2 separate regions of the Homo sapiens genome follow, and region 1 is linked to region 2. Evidence: fine-mapped expression QTL. A gene starts in region 2. The other region holds a variant in brackets. All regions are shown on one strand. Distances are between the middles of the regions. Region 1 has its middle 4.6 kb from the start of ZP1. Region 2 holds the start of CCDC86 (coiled-coil domain containing 86).

Region 1 (8,267 bases), 20 kb before region 2:
AGGTGAGTAAACAGACCAGTAGCACCTCCAAGGGCTCTCCTGAGGATTCAGCCGGTCAGTATGATGATGACTATGACTAATAAAAAATAACAAGGACAACTAAATGTAATGTGGCATCTGGATGGGATCGTGGAACAGAAAAAGGCAGTAAAAGTGAAGAAAGTGGATTTTAGTTAATAATAATGTGTCCACATTTGTTTGTTCATTAATTGTAATAAATGTATCATACTCAAGTAAGATCAGTTATGGGGTAAACTGGGCCTGCGGTGTATGGGAACTGTCTGTACTATCTTCTCAGTTCTGTAAATCTAGAACAGTTCTAAGACATAAAAGTGGCTGGAAACAACAAGAATGGCCTGTGGTCTGCCATGATTACAGTGCCAGGTCTTGCTTGTGTTAGATCCTTATACCGCCTGACCATCCTCTGAGGAAGGGACTGTCACCAGCCCCACGTCCTGGCACTAATTCCTGCAAGTGATTAGCCTAGGGCCCAGCAGCGTTTGAGCTCAGCAAACATTAGAAAATGCAGCTATTATAATTAGCAGCTGCTGGAAGGGGAGAGCAAGAGGCTTGATAGCTAAGAGCCCGGTTCTGGTGAGGTTGCAGAGAAAAAGGAATGCTTATACGCTCTTGGTGGGGGTGTAAATTGGTTTGACCACTGTGGGAGTGTGGTGATTCCTCAAAGAGCTGAAAACAGAACTATCATTTGATGCAGAAATCGCATTACTGGGTATATATCCAAAGGAATATAAATTGTTCTATCATAAAGACACTGAACCTGCGTGCATATGTTCAGTGCAGCATGATTCACAATAGCCAAGACATGGAATCAAATGCCCATCAATGGTAGACTCAATAAAGAAAATCTGGTACATGCTGAGCACGGTGGCTCACGCCTGTAATCCCAGCACTTTGGGAGGCCGAGGCGGGCGGATCACGAGGTCAGGAGATCGAGACCATCCTGGCTAACATGGTGAAACCCTGTCTCTACTAAAAATACAAAAATTAGCTGGGTGTGGTGGCACGCACCTGTAGTCCCAGCTACTCAGGAGGCTGAGGCAGGAGAATCGCTTGAACCCAGGAGACGGAGGTTGCAGTGAGCCGAGATTGTGCTGTTGCACTCCAGCCTGGCCGACAGAGTGAGACTCTGTCTCAAAAAAAAAAAAAAAAAAAGAAAAAGAAAAAAAAAAAAGGAAAATGTGGTACACATACACCATGGAATACTATGCAGCCATAAAAAAGAATGAGATCACATCTCTTGCAAGAACATGGATGGAGCTGGAGGATATTATCCTTAGCAAACAAATGCAGGAACAGAAACCAATACCACATGTTCTCACTTATAACTGAAGGCTAAATGATGACAACATATGGACACATAGAGGGGAATGGCACACACTGGGGCCTATTGAAGGGTAGAGGGTAAGAGGAAGGAGAAGGGTGGAAATAATAACTATTGGGTGCTAGGCTTAGTATCTGGGTGATGAAATAATCTGTACAACAATCCCTCTGGACATGCATTTACCTATATAACAAACCTGCATAAGTAACCCTGAACCTAAAATAAAAGTTTAAACAAAAAAAGTTGGTTCTAATGGTGCCCCAACCACTTTCTTAGCTGTGACTCAGATGCATTATCTATTCTGAGCCTCAGGTTTCCTGTTTGTAAACTGGGGGTGATAATGCTTTCCTTGCCCACATGGTGGATAGGAAGACACAAAGAGACAAGTCATGGGTACCAGGTGCAGTAATGATTTAATGCTTGGCAATAATTCACTTCTACTGTGATTAAAGCTCAGCTGGGAAAGCTTGGTGGGGCGGGGTGGGAGTCCCTCTGGGGGCACAGTGGGAAGAGGCACCCAACACAGCATCGAGGATGGGCGACATGGAAGTGTTTTTGGAGGAAAGGGGTCCTGAGCAGAGGTGGGAGGAGGCGGGGAGGACAGGGATGGTGCAATGGGGATCTGGGGAGAGCAGAGCTGGAGGAGGAGGGAGGAAGCAGGTCACACAAAGGTCCAGGACAAGGACTCCAGGCAGGCTGAGGGTGCTGGCGAGGGAAGGACTAGGAGGGGAAGGAGAGGAGCCAGGCAGGAGCGGGGAGTGGGGTGGATTTTCCCTGAGGGACGATGTGGAAGTTTTAAACTTTTAATTTTGAAATTATTTCAGATTTGCAGAATTTCCATATAGCCTCCTCCAGATTCCTCAGATGTTCACTGTTCACTTTTTACATTTGCTGTAGCTCCCGCTTTCTCTCTCTGCATGTGTGCAGACATACACGCACGCACACGCACACACGCACACATTCTTCCATATCATTCAAGAGTCAGTTGCAGAAATGACAGATTCCCCTTTACCTCTAATTGCTTCAGTATACATTTCCTAAAAAAACAAATCACCCCTACAGTCAAATGATCAAAATCAGGAAACCAACAATGGTATAAACACAACGATCTAATCTGCAGACATTATTGTAAGAAATAAAGAGGAAAGCAACATGAAAGGGCGGTTCAACAGGCAACAGGGACAGGTTTATGTTGAGTAAACCTGAGAGGGGCGGCTGGCCGAGTTAGGTCAGAGCCCCACTCTCTTACAGATTAAGAGTTAAGGATTCAGGGCGGGGGAGTTTATCAGAGGCTTGGACTGCTCCTGTGTCTCTTTGCTGTGCGTATCTGGGAGGGAGAGTTGTGTGTCTGTTCCCATATATCTTTCTGCAGCTACAGGCATATCCCCAGAGTCTGCTTTTAGCTTCCCTATCTTAGTGCCCCTGAAGGAAAAGGAATGTGCTTATTAAGGCCCACTGTTTTACTGGGGCTCATTGTGTGAGGGTGAAGTTTGGCAGTTACCAAAGAGACCTTCCCTCCACCCCGCTCTGTGCCGGAGCTGTCTTATCTGTATTTTACTGTCTGCTCTTTCTGGCTGTTGTAGTTAGAAGAGAAGTGATTTCCTTGAAATGCATGAGGCTAGAAAGGGAGCTGGAGCTTAAAGTGGCAGTATTTGTCCGAGATGACGGTGCTCCTGCTCTGACAATTACTCAACATCTGCCGACTGTCCTAACTGTGACTTTCATGGCAAAGGAGTACAGTGGTTTTGGGAGTCTGCAGGATCCAATCCAGGCTCAGAGTCTCGCTGGCGTGCCTCTTGGCCTCCTCTGATCTGGGACCGCCCTTCTATCTTCTTTTGTCTTTCATACCCTTGACATTTTTTAGTACAGCCGGATGATTTTGCAGAATGGCCCTCAGTTTGGGTTTGTCTGGTGTTTTCTCCTGGTTACATTAGATTTAGTTGATGCATCTTGGCCTTGTATTAGTCCGTTTGGCTGCTGTAACAAAATACAGACTGAGTGGCTTAAATAAGTCTTTTTCTCACAGCTCTGGAGCCTGGATGTGCTAGGTCAAAGTGGTGGCAGGTCTGGTTGCTCCTGAGGCCTCTCTCTTTGGCCTGCAGACAACCGTCTTCTCACTGAGTCCTCACGTGGTCTTTCCCCTGTGCTGGTGCGTCCTTGGTGTCTCTTTGAATGGTCAAATTCCCTCTTCTTCTGGCTGGCACGGTGGCTCACGCCTGTAATCCTAGCACTTTGGGAGGCCGAGGTGGGCAGATCACTTGAGGTCAGGAGTTTGAGACCAGCCTGGCCAACATGGTGAAACCCCATCTCTACTAAAAATACAAACTAATTAGTTGGGTGTGGTGGTGCACACCTGCAATCCCAGCTCCTCAGGAGGCTGAGGTGGGAGAATCACTTGAACCTGGGAGGTGGAGGTTGCAGGGAGCCAAGACGGCACCACTGCACTCCAGTCTGGAAGACAGAGTGAAACTCCATCCCAAAAAACAAAAACAAATTTCCTCTTCTTCTAAGGACACCAGTCAGATTGGATTAGGGCCACCTTAAGGGGCTCAATCTTAAATCACATCTTTAAAAGCTCTATCTCCAAATACAGTCACATTCTGAGGGATGGGGGTGGAGGGTTAGGGATTTCGCATATGAATTTTGGGGGGATACAATTCAGCTTGTACAGAAGTGATGTTGTGTCCTTCTCAGTATCTCGAGGCACACCCCGCTGGCTTGTCCTGTTATTGCTGATGTGACTTTGATCACTTGGATAAGGTGGT[G/A]TCTGCCAGGTTTCTCCACCATAAAGTAATGATGTTTCTCTTTGTAATTCATGAGTATCTTACAGGGAGATACTTTGAGACTATGTAATCAATCCTGCTCCTCTTCAAATGTTCACTGGCTAGTGTGGTTGCCAAGTGGGTGGTGGTTCTCTAACTCTACCCTTCCTTCTGCATTTATTTGCTATCATAAGAGAGAACTTTTCCTAACGGGGGCTTTTAGGGGCCAGAGAGAGAATCAGCTGGAGTCTTTGAGAGGCCTGGATTTTGCCTGGTGCTCACTGTTTATGAGCACAAGGGCCCTGGGAAGTCACTTACCGGCTTTTTTCCTCTATCTGGAGAGTAAGGATGAGAATGATTATGGTGGGGATGCAATTACATAAGACACGGAGAGGTGTTTCCCCACTGGTCATGGACCCATGGGGAAAGTACGTCTCCCAAGGTGCTGGAAATGGGCAGGGAAAGAGAAGGGGGGCTTCCTCAGGGCCAAGGGCAGAACACCTTTGGGAAAAGGGTACCAGAGTATCCAAGAGAGAGAGAGAGCGCGCACGAGCGCCCTGAGCCCTCGGTTACGACTCTACGTTCTTGCAAAGACTCATGGACACCAAGAATTATCAGCCTGGGAGGATCCCAGCTCCTCTGCTCACCCACTGGAGACCTTGGAAAAGTCCCTTCCCTGCTCTGTGACTTGCTTTCCTCATCTATAAAATGGGGTTATAATAGCACCTAAATTGTAGGGTTGCTCTGAGGATTAAATGAGATAATCCATGTGAAGCAGGCAGAACAGGGTCTGCACATGGTCATCATTTGAACACGATAGCCATTACAACCACGATTATTTTTATTGATAAAGAGAGAGGGTCAGATGGAGGTGACTTGACTTGGAATCTTGGCTTTATCCACTTGGCTTCTGGTTTTTGGGTTTTTTTTTAGAGATGGGGTCTTGCTATATTGCCCAGGCTGGTCTCAAACTCCTGGGCTCAAGCAATCTGCCCGCCTCTGTCTCCCAAAGTGCTGGGATTACAGGCATGAGCCTCCACACCTGGCCACTTGGCCTGTTTGTAAACCTGTTTGTTCATTTCTTTCTTTCTGTTTTTAACCTATGAATTTTTTTTTAATGGAACTTCAGTTTCTTTTCTTTCTTTTTTTTTTTTTGTTTTGTTTTGAGACAGAGTCTCACTCTGTCGCCCAGGCTGGAGTGCAGTGGCGCGATCTCGGCTCACTGCAAGCTCCGCCTCCCGGTTCACACCATTCTCCAGCCTTAGCCTCCCGAGTAGCTGGGACTGCAGGCGCTGGCCACCATGCCCGGCTAATTTTTTATATTTTTAGTAGAGACGGGGTTTCACCGTGTTAGCCAGGATGGTCTCGATCTCCTGACCTTGCGATCCGCCCGCCTCAGCCTCCCAAAGTGCTGGGATTACAGGCGTGAGCCACCGCACCCAGTTGGAACTTGAGTTTCTTAATCTATAAAATGGAACTAAGAATACAGTCCACCTAAGTGGGGCGCCGTGTAAGTATCAGTTGCTTGCCCTGTCTCCTCTGTGAATAGAGCCTAGGGAAGGCACTGGAGGAGGATGGAGCCTCTCTAGGCTGGAAAGACAAAATCCCCTTTCAGGGGATCCATGCATGCCAGGAAACCAGCAGGAAGCAGGCTGCCTCACTCCGGGGCCTGCAGAGTAACCCAAGAGCAGCGCCAGCTGTGTGTGTATGTATGGACCGTGCTCACCGCAGAGATGCTCCCAGAAGGCCAGTGGGAGCGCATTTAACTGAAGACAGGCAGCCCTGCTTCCCCTGAGGGAACAAAGAACCTCAGAGAATCTCATCAGCTGCGAAGAGCTGGGCTCTGCTGCTGGACCACATGGCTCTGAACTCCAGCTCCTCTGCTCCCCAGCTGAGCAGGCTTGGTAGGGTTGCTTAAGCTCTCTGAGCCTCAGTTTTCCCCTTGGTGAGTGACGATGATAGTGGTACCTAACTCAGAGGGGTGCGTGAATATTTGATGAGCTCATCCATGAGCAAGTTTCAGCCTTACGCTGGCACATAGTGAGTGCCCCATAAGTGTTAGCTATTACTGTTTTCATTTTTTTTTTTTTTTTTTTTTTGAGATGGCGTCTCGCTCTGTCACCCAGGCTGGAGTGGAGTGGCAGGATCTCGGCTCACCATAACCTCTGCCTCCTGGGTTCAAGCGATTCTCCTGCCTCAGCCTCCTGAATAGCTGGTATTACAGGCGTGCACCATCACACCTGGCTAATTTTTGTATTTTTAGTAGAGATGGGGTTTTGCCTGTTGGCCAGGCTGGTCTCGAACTCCTGACCTCAAGTGATCTGTCCGCCTCATCCTCCCGAAGTGCTGGGATTGCAGGCATGAGCCACCGTACCCAGAAGCTATTATTGCTTTCACTGTGTTGAATGGTGGCCCTCAAAAGACATGTCCACAACCTAACCCCTGGAACCTGTGAATGTGGCCTTATTTGGATAAGAGGACTTTGCAGATGTAATCAATTTAAGAATCTCAAGATGAGAGCACCCTGGATGATCCAGATGAGCCCTAAGTCCAGTGACCAGTACTCTGTGAGAGACACATGAAAAGAGGGAGGGGGAAGGCCAGGTAAAGAGGAGGTAGAGATTGCAGTGATGCAGCCCTAAGCCAAGGGACGCCTGGAGCCACCAGAAGCTGGAGGGGCCAAAAAGTCTCCTTTTCTAGAGCTTTCGGAGGAAGTGCTGGCATCTGATTACAGACTCTGGCTTCCAGACTGTAAGAGAATAAGTCTCTGTTGTTTAAAGCTGCCACGTTTGTGGTAGTTTGTTCTGACAGCCCGAGGAAACAAATACACCACTGTTGTTTCTGCGACGATTGCCTGGCACATGTGTGGGCCTGAGCCCAGGCCAGGGCTGCCTCTGCCTGCTCTGCCTTCTTGTCTTCCTTCCTACTATAAAGCGATCAGTCCCCAAGGTTGTACCCACTGCAGGTGAAGACAGAGCCATGGAGAATTGCACCAGACCATGGGTAAGAAAGGTTCCAGAATGGGGCCGGACACAGTGGCTCAGGCCTGTAATCCCAGGACTTTGGGAGGCTGAGGCAGGCAGATCACCTGATGTCAGGAGTTTGAGACCAGCCAGGCTAACATGGTGAAACCCCTTCTCTACTAAAAATACAAAAATTAGCCGGGTGCGGTGGCGCACGCCTGCAGTCCCAGCTACTTGGGAGGCTGAGGCAAGAGAGTCGCTTCAACCCGGGAGGCGGAGGTTGCAGTGAGCCAAGATAGGGCCACTGCACTCCAGCCTGTGCAACAGAGCGAGACTCAGTCTCAAAAAAAAAAAAAAAAAAAAAAAAGTAAAGGTCTCAGAATGGGTCACCACAAGGGACTGGGGTCCTTTGAGGTCTGCACAGGGAAGCCAATTTTAGAGATTCATTCTGTTCAGCAAATATATGTTGGGACCCCTCTCATGTGTCAGGCCCTCTGCTTGCCTTTGGAGGTGAGAAGATAAAACAGGAATAAGTCTCTGTCTTCAGGTGGCTCATGAGGGTGGTGAACAGTTGTGTGAACAAGAGTTACCAGGGAAGACAGGGGGGCTGCAGGTCAAGTGAAGTGGAGATGTGGGAGAGGAGGGACAGCAAGTGGGTCTGAGAGAATCAGCAAAGGCTTCCCAGAGGAGGCAACCTCTAACCAGGGTTTTGAAGGATGAATAGGAGTTCACTGAGAGGCCAAGGGAAGAAAAGGCATTCCAGAGCAGAGCACAAACAGCATAAGCCAGGGCACAGAAACAGCCTGGTGGGCACAGAAACAGCCTGGTGTGTACAGAAAAAGCCTGGTGTGCACAGGACAGGAGGGGACAGTGGTGAGTGCTGGCTGATGACAGGATGCCACTAGGGAGTGGCAGCAATGCCAGGGGAGGCTTGGGTGGGACTGGATCACCGAGGGGCTTGTTGGCCATGCGAGGAGTCCTGTGGGTGATGGTGGCACCAGGGAACTCAACCTGGGCCTCCCCAAGGTATCATTTGGGGCCCTGCCATGCTGCTCCTCTACTGGGTGTGGGTAGCTCGAGGGCCTCCGAGCAAGGGGCTGGAGGATCCCAGGGCAGGCCTCACCCTGCTTCCTGCCCTGCATCTCACTTCCTGTTTGACTGACTTCTTTAAAGTGGCCAGAAAGGAACATAAAAAACCCA
Region 2 (8,328 bases):
GAGGCTGAGGTGGGCCGATCACCTAAGGTCGGGAGTTCGAGACCAGCTTGACCAACATGGAGAAACCCTGTCTCTACTAAAAATACAAAATTAGCTGGGTGTGGTGGCACACACCTGTAATCCCAGCTACTTGGGAGGCTGAGGCAGGAGAATCGCTTGAACCCAGGAGGCGGAGGTTGCGGTGAGCCGAGATTGCTCCATTGCACTCTGGCCTGGGCAACAAGAATGAAACTCCGTCTCAAAACAAAAAAAAAGAAAAAAAGAAAAAAAAGCCAAGTATCAAAGATGAAGCTACACTAGTAAAATGCTGAGCTGTGTTGATGCTGATAATGGGGACTTGAGAGCTTTGCTCTTTCTTTGTATGCTTGAAAATTTCCATTCAAAAAAAGTAAAAACAAAATGCAAAGAAGTCTCTCGGTGGCCTCCACATGCTGAAATTAGGTCTTTCTCTTTTAAAGATTCAAGGCCCATTTTGGTGTCCCTTGGCCCTGCCGACTTCTGGCCCCAGCTCCCTGATTTCCTTCTCCCCTTCCCAAGGCCTTGCCACTGAAGGCCTGGCCTCCTAAGCACTAAGAATGGGGTGCCACATGGACTTCCCCCATAACTGTAAAGCTGGGCTTCCCAAGCTGGGGTACGAGAACCCTGAAGGGACAAGGTGTTGGGAGCCTAGAGACACACAGAACCACAAGACACAGTGCTGCATCTGTGTAGAGCAGGGCTGTCAAACAGAACGTTCTGTGATGGTGGAAACATTCCACATTGACACTGTCCAATAAGGTAGCCACTAGTCATGGGTGGCTGCTGAGCGCTAGAAATGTGGTTGGTGTTGATAGAGAAACTGAATCTTAAATTTTATTTAATTTTAATTAATTTAAATGTACATAGCCACATGTGGCTGGCGGCTAAGGTACTGAGGCAGGGCAGTTCCAGACCATTGGTTCTACCTGGGTATTGAGGAAACTCAGGCCTGGGTTCCAAGTCCAACCTGGGTGACCTGGAGCAAGGTAGCCTCTCTAAGTCTCAGCATCCTGTCCAGTGGAGATGAGAATCATTCCTAACCCAAAGGGTGGTGGGAGATTTAATCGACACACACACGTAATAGGTGCTCCATAAATGCTACTCCTCAGAGAAGGCAGACAGCATGCCCAAGGGCACTATGGAGAAAGTGGCGTTTGGCATGAGCACGAAGACAGGGCTGCAGCCAGGTCTCCCTCACCACATACACTTTCCCAGCTGCGGCTGTCTTCCTCCCTGCAGCAGGAGCTGCTTCCCACCCATCTCCAGGCTCACTTACTACCCACCGAAGCTGCTCCCTCAAAGATCCCAAACATCCATTCAGTGGCCCTGCTGGGCCCCTCGCCACAGACTTGCCTGCAGCTTCGGAAGCTGTTTTAGTTCTCTTGAGACAGCCTCCTTGTGGGTTTTCCTGCCTTCACCCCTGCCCGCCTATGTCTGTGTTCAGTAGCCAGGCTGATCTCACAAGTCAGGTCATTTCATTCCTTTGCTTGACACCCTTCCATGGCTCCCAAGCTCACTCAGGAAAGCCGGGAGTCCCTGTAAGGGTCACCAGGTCCTGCTGTCTCTCTGACCTCATCTCCTACTGTTCCCCTTCTCCCCCTCATTCCAGCAGCGAGACCTCTGGAAAGCCTCTCAAACGGGAGCTTGCTCCCGCCTCAATACCTCTGAACATCCCTTTCCTGTTGCCTGGATACTGTTTCCCCAGATCTCTGCCCGGCTCCCTCTGCTCAGACCTGTTTATCTGCAAGGCCATCTCTGAGCACTGTGGCAATACCCTGCCCTCCCTGTTATTCTCTGGTCCCCATCCTGGTTTATTTTTCTTTGAAGTCTTTATTACTGACATATCATGTGTGTACTTGTTCTTTATCTGTTTCCCACATTTAGAATGTTTGCTTCAGGAGAGCAGAGACTTTTTGTTCACAGACATGTTTACCCAAGATCTGAGCAACTGGTTGATGAATGAATGAACTACCTTCTGTCCTCAATTCATCCACTTGTTCAGCTTAGTGCCCTACCCTGCACTGGGCTCTGGGGCATCTAGTCATGATAGGTAAGTCCCCACTCTTACACTCTCACGGAGCCTCCGGTTTAAAGGAAAACAGGCAGTCAATAAGAATCACAAATAAATAAGCATTTGTGCAAATGGAGGTGTTACAAAAGAGAAGTACAGCACACAATGATAACATAAAGCATGGGGACTTAACCCTAGTTGGATAAGCCAGAGAGGCTTTTCAGAGGAGGTGACATTTGAACTGAGCCCTGAAACATGAGTGGGGGACTGGCCAGGGAAAGAGCCTTTCAAACAGTGGGAACAGCACGTGTGAAGGCGCTGAGGAAGGAGGGAGCGTCACACATGGGAGGAACATGGAGGGGACAACAGTGTGGAAGCTCTAGTGATGGAGGGGAGAGGAGGGTGGGCCTGCCGGCCTCATTAAGGAGTCTGGAGTGCATGCTCTGAGTGAGCAACAGTGAGTCAGGACGGGTCTGCAGTTGGGCAGGGAGCTGGAACCACACACCCTCTCTCCAGACTTCTTGGTCAAGTGATCTGTGGCCTCCTACTCTGCTCCAGCTGCTGATCCTGTGTCTTGTGTGGGCCCCTCCCTTCTCCCCACCTCTGCATGGGCCCAGCCCCCTCTAGCTCAGCAAGCCCATCTCCCCACCTGCAGCGTGAGTACCAGGACCCCAAGCTTCACCCGCTCAACTTGCTCATCACCCTCTTCCCACCTGAACCAGCCTCCTCCAGTTCCACATGGCCATCAACGGCCCTGCCATTCTCCTGTGACCCCCTGGGACAGGGCAGAGGGGTAGTGCCATCATCCACTTCTCCAACAGTTACAGTCACTCTAGCCTCAAAGTCTCTCCCATGGGAGACTTGCAGTAAATTACTCTGTAAGCCTCAGTTTCTTCTGTTTCATCAGGGGTGGGGGGATAATATCCACAGCCTAGGGTTTTAAGGATACAAGAAAAGGGCCTAGCACGAAGCCTGGCACAGAGTCAGCTTCTTCCTTAAAAACACCCTCCTTCCTCATGGTCCCTCACAGGCATACATCCCTGACTCTCCCCTGTGGTTCCCATTAGCTCGAATTGGAACTGAATCCCACACCTCTCCTTCATGGCAGCCTACACTCTTCCTTCTTCAGATGAGCTACTTCGTTCCTTCATTAAATAAGCATTCATTGGGCATTTACTATGCCCTTGGCACAGAAAGACAAGAAAGATCTCGTGCCTGCCCCTTAAGAAGGTCGCAATCCAATTCAAGGTGGATCTACAGGGATTGGGTAAAGGGGTTTTTTGCACACAGGCTTCGGAATCAGATCTGTGCTCAGGTCCTGTGCCTACCACTCATTTAGCCTTGGTTTCCTCACACAAAAAACAGGAATAATAACACCGCCTGCTTCACAGGGCTGACGTGCAGATTAAGCGTGATGACACATGCTGTTCCATGTTTGAAAGGCTGTTGACTGGTAAATCCTTATTAAGGCTGTTGACTGGTAAATCCTTATATAATCAGTGCTCAGTAATACTTTTTATCTTAAAGGCAAATAACTGTAATAGACTATATTGGATGAAGACCTCACTGCTTTGATCAAGTAATGGCTGGTTTACTTGCTTCTGCTTCTCTCACTAGAGAGGGCAGACAACGGTAAATGTCTGTTGAACGAATACAGACCTGAGGTGCTACAGGAGAGGCCCATAGGGACCCTGAGGAGGAAAGGCATCAGAGAAATTGATCTTTGAGGGCCTGGCCCCACCCTCTCCGGGATCCCAGGGCATTTTACCACATTCTGATTGTAATTACCTGTTTGCTAACATCCCCACTAACGTGAGCTCTCTCTAACCCTGGGGCTATTCTCCAGGCTGCAGCAGGGCAAAGGCGGGGTCCCAACACCATAGAGAACGCCACCCCTGTCCATGCTGTCCCCCACTTCACCTTTTCTTGGAGCGGTCCTTCCACACTCGCCCCGATTTGGGCTTCCCCTTCGGGATTACAGGAAGCTCCTCTTTATTCAACTTCTTGGACGCTGGGGCCTGGGATGAAGAACCTTTTCGCTTCTTTGCCCCGAAGCCGCCTGTCACCGTCTCCCCAGCTGGAGGTGGCTTGCTCGGCTCATGCTGACCCCGGGGGGAGCCAGGTGCCCTGGGTGTCAGCTCCAGTAGTGGCTGAGAGGGCTCCGGACCGGGAGCTTGCTGACCGGGGTAAGGCTCTGGTGATCCTGGGACCGGCGGTAGCTGATGCTGGGGGGCCCCCGGGGTCAGCTCCTCCTTATTCTGGGCCAACTCCGAGGCCAGTACTCCCTGGTCCTGAGAACACTTTGGTGCCTCCTCACTTGGCTTCGGCTGACATCGTGGGGATTCAGGACTGTACTCTGGCTGTCTTTGAGGCGACTCCAGGTGTAGGTCTTGCTGACGCTGGGGGGACGCTGCGCCTGGCTCTGGCTGCCCTTGGGGTGACTCCAAGCCTGCACCCTGCTGCAGACGGGGTGATCCTGGGCTTGTCTTCGGCGGCCTTTCGGGGGACCCCAGGCCAGCCCGCTGCACACTCGGAGGAGACCCGGGCTCCCTCGTTTCTTCTGGGTTCGACTCGAACTCCACAAGGGCCCGTCTCGTCCGCGAAACTGAGGTGAGGCTCTCGGGGGATTCGGGCCTTAGGCCTCCCAGCCGTCGGCTGCGCCTTAACGGTGTATCCATGGCTCAGCCGGTAAGTTTCCACACCCCTGCGCACGTGCAGCCCCCGCCGAAACCGGCGCCTTCCTATGACGTCAGGAGTCGCCGCGTCCGTGACGCACAGGAGGGGGGCTGTTGCTGAGGCGGCCATGTTGGTGAGGGGTGGAGAGGCGGGACCGGGGTTGGGGAGAGTGGGGCTCAGCATGCGCATGCGCAATTCGCGCGAGCGCAGTCAACATGTGATTGATGAGCCAGTCTTTTTCCTGGGATTCGCTTTTGCCTTTCTTGCAAAGTTTCCTGGGGAAAGAAGAGCGAGCAAGTAGAAAAGGGAAAGTGGGAGGACCCATTTCAGGGAGAGAACAGAGTCGAAAAAAGGTCCGAGGAGCCCATAGGCAAGGCCCAGTGGATGTTTTGCAGCCAACTCCGGTGCAGTTGGGCAGAGTCCTGCCCTCCTTGGGCCTGTTTTCTCATTTGTAATAGGGGTCATTTTGCACTAGCTTCGTGCATCCCAAATGATCCTGTCAGAGTCCTCCTCCCACCTACCTGAGGGACTGCTACCTGGGGGTCCTGGAGGTGGAAGATCGGTCTTTTCTGTGTTAATTGTTCACACTCTTGATTCTTCCGTCCTGTGCTTCCGTATATAATCCATAGCTCTCCCTCCCTTTTCAGCGTTTTCAACGTTTGTGAGGGAAGTTGAGGTACCAATAAGATGCACCACCTTTGTCCTGTGGCTCACCTGGGCCCTCGACCAGCTGCATATCCTCCCACGTCCCTCTTCTTCTACCCCAGTTCTAGAAACGGGTTGGATCATCTCCGATCTTCCTTTCAGCCCAGACAGTGGTTTTTGCTCGTGTGTGAACCTGCTTCGCCTCCCCTCCCTTCCCTTGCTATTCACCTGTAAATGTACTTTGCTTACTAAGCACTTTGGGACCTCACCAGTGAGCAGGTGTTGACTTCTGGACCTCCCAAGGCCTAGAGAAGACTCTCGGGATGTGGGGTTGGGGAATGTGGGGCTGTGGAGACTTTCGTGTGAGACCTAGGAGTGGGGCTTTGATTTACTTACAGCATGCTTCTTAGGAAGAACATCTTGGAAGTGGCCCAGTTGTGTAATTCTTGGAACTGCCTGGGGTTGGCCATTAAAGGTCCCAGGGCCCCGTCTGACATTCCAGTGGTTTCTTTTAGAAACCATTGTTTCTCCAGCTGCGGGCTTGTGAGAGGGCCTGGGAAATTGTCCAAGAATATCAGGGATCAGAGTGTCCTCATCTTCCTCATGTTCCTGAGTCAAGGAGACCCCTGCAGGGGGGCTTTGCCTGCCTCACTGCTCCTCTCCGGCCATGCAGCTGTCCACAGCAGAAGCAGCCGGGACACCTCCTTGCCCAGCTCTTCCACCCCCCAACTGTCAGAGGAGTGAGTTCCATTCAGTTCCTTAAATGCCCTGCCCCTGCCTGGAGACCCCAATGATCTGACACTCAGAACCAAGCCCGGCAGGTGTTGCCAGAGTGCTGGAGGAGACTGTATGCCCCTCTGCCCTGCTCCAGTCCCCCTTGGCTTGCCCTGCCTCCTAAGCTCTTGTCCCCAGCTGGAGGGATCACTCTCCAGTGCCGATTGGATCATATCCTAGTCTAGCCTGAAATACTTCAGAGGGTGATCTCAGGTTTTCACCAGAGAGAGGGAGATGTGTTTTAGAGGAGGCCTTTGGGTGGCCCCCAGACATTTGGAGGCACTTTGTCAACCTCAGCATCAGATGGGCTCTGGCCCAGAACCCCCTACTCCCACATGAGCTCAGTTTGTCATTGTCATTATACATGGTGTGCAGAGGCCCAGAGGAGACTCCTGAAATTTTCAGAAGCGCCTGGTGTGGCGATCGCTGTTGGGACCCTGTCTCCTTACACTCCTTTGCTTTCTTTTAAAAATTATTATTATTTTTGAGACAGGGTCTTGCTCTGTTGTCCAGGCTGGAGTGCAGTGGCACAATCACAGCTCACTGCAGCCTTGACCTCCCAGGCCCCAGGGATCCTCCCACCTGAGTAGCTGGCACCACAGGCTCATGCCACCATGCCTGGCTATTTTTTTTTTTTTGTAGAAACGGGGTCTCCCTGTGTTGCTCAGGCTGGTCTTGAACTCCTGGGCTCAAGTGATCCTCCTGCCTCGGCCTCCTGAAGTGTTGGGATTACAGGCGTGAGCCACTGTGCCTGGCCACTCCTTTGCTTTTATTGCAGCTTTCTACATCACAGCTTTCTTGCCTTTAGGTGGTAGGATACTGAGGGGCTTCTCTGTAGCCCCCAGAGGCCACCAACAGGATTGAACTTGCATTGCCCACAAAGGTAATCTGCTCATGGACCCTCTTTTGGCTTCATCCCTGTCTCACTTCCCCACTTTCTTATAGATGCTTGCTGAGGTCATTCTCAGAGCAGACAAATATTGTACTTAATCCTCTTCTCAGAGTTGGCTTCTGCAGAAACCTAGCCTGAAACATTGGTGCCAGCAATGATTGGTCCAGGCATTGTTTCAAGTACTCTCCAAGTACAAATCCATTTCTTAATGCTTCTCCCAACAATCCTGTGAGGCAGGTGCAGTTGTTATTACTCCCAGTTTACAGATAAAGAAACTGAGAGGCTGGGTGCGCTGGCTCACACCTGTAGTAATCCCAGTACTTTGGGAGGCCAAGGTGGGCGGATCACTGGAGGCCAGGAGTTCAAGACCAGCCTGGCCAACATGATGAAACCCCATCTCTACTAAAAGTACAAAAATTAGCTGGGTGTGGTGGCAGGCGCCTCGAGTCCCAGCTACTCAGGAGGCTGAGGCAGGGGAATTGCTTGAACCTGGGAGGTAGAGGTTGCAGTGAACCAAGATCGTGCCACTGCACAGCAACCTGGGTGGCAGAGCAAGACTCTGTCTCAAAAAAAAAAAAAAAAAAAGACTGAGGCACAGAGAGGCTGAGACACTTGTAAAGGTCACACAGCAAATAAGTGGTAGAGGCAAGATCCACACCTAGACTGTCTGATTCCAGAGCCACAACTCTTAACAGTAAATCTGCCTGTTATCCAGGCAAGGAATCAGGCATGGGAAGGCTAAGGTGCTTGCCCAAAATCAGACAGCGGCACATTCAGGAGCCAGGATTGTGGTTCCAGAGGTGGCATGCTTAGCTGCCTTGCAGCTGCCCCCACATGGGCCTTGCTCACCTATTCGTCACACTGATTCTGGTCTGTGTGCTGGGAGGAGGTGGGTACCACCTGGCACACACCATCGTGCAGAATGTGCCGAATCAGCAATACCAGTTTATTTATGTAACCTGAGATCTGCTGACTGATGGAAACCAAGCGCTGGCAGATGGATGGAAGATAGGATCAGGTGTTCTCCTCTGAGTCATTGACCTCCCCCCAGCTAAGGGGTGCTACAGTTGAGAGGGTCTGACAGTCCCCAGATGTCAGAGACCTGGGTCCCCATGGCTTTCTGTTCAACACCTAGCCTTGCCTGAAATACTTCAGAGGGTGATCTCAGGTTTTCACCAGAGAGAGGGAGATGTGTTTTAGAGGAGGCCTTTGGGTGGCCCCCAGACACTTGGAGACACTTTGTCAACCTCAGCATCAGGTGGGCTCTGGCCCAGAACCCCCTACTCCCACCTGAGCTCAGTTTGTCATTGTC

Evidence for each region.
Region 1: its variant is fine-mapped to the expression of CCDC86 in whole blood (TOPMed, PIP 0.96).

What each region holds. Positions count from the first base shown.
Region 1 is chr11:60,858,764-60,867,030 of GRCh38, reverse strand. No RefSeq gene overlaps it. Among named protein-coding and RNA genes, the nearest start is that of ZP1, 4.6 kb to the left of the region's middle. RefSeq lists silencers at 2,537-2,754, 2,601-2,895. The variant G/A (reference allele first, on the strand shown) is at 4,108.
Region 2 is chr11:60,838,504-60,846,831 of GRCh38, reverse strand. CCDC86 (coiled-coil domain containing 86) reads right to left here and starts at 4,719. Exons shown (of 4, transcript NM_024098.4): 1 at 3,950-4,719. The coding sequence starts at 4,707. CCDC86-AS1 (CCDC86 antisense RNA 1) reads left to right here. Exons shown (of 2, transcript NR_182293.1): 2 at 4,852-5,026. RefSeq lists enhancers at 4,294-4,523, 4,430-5,629.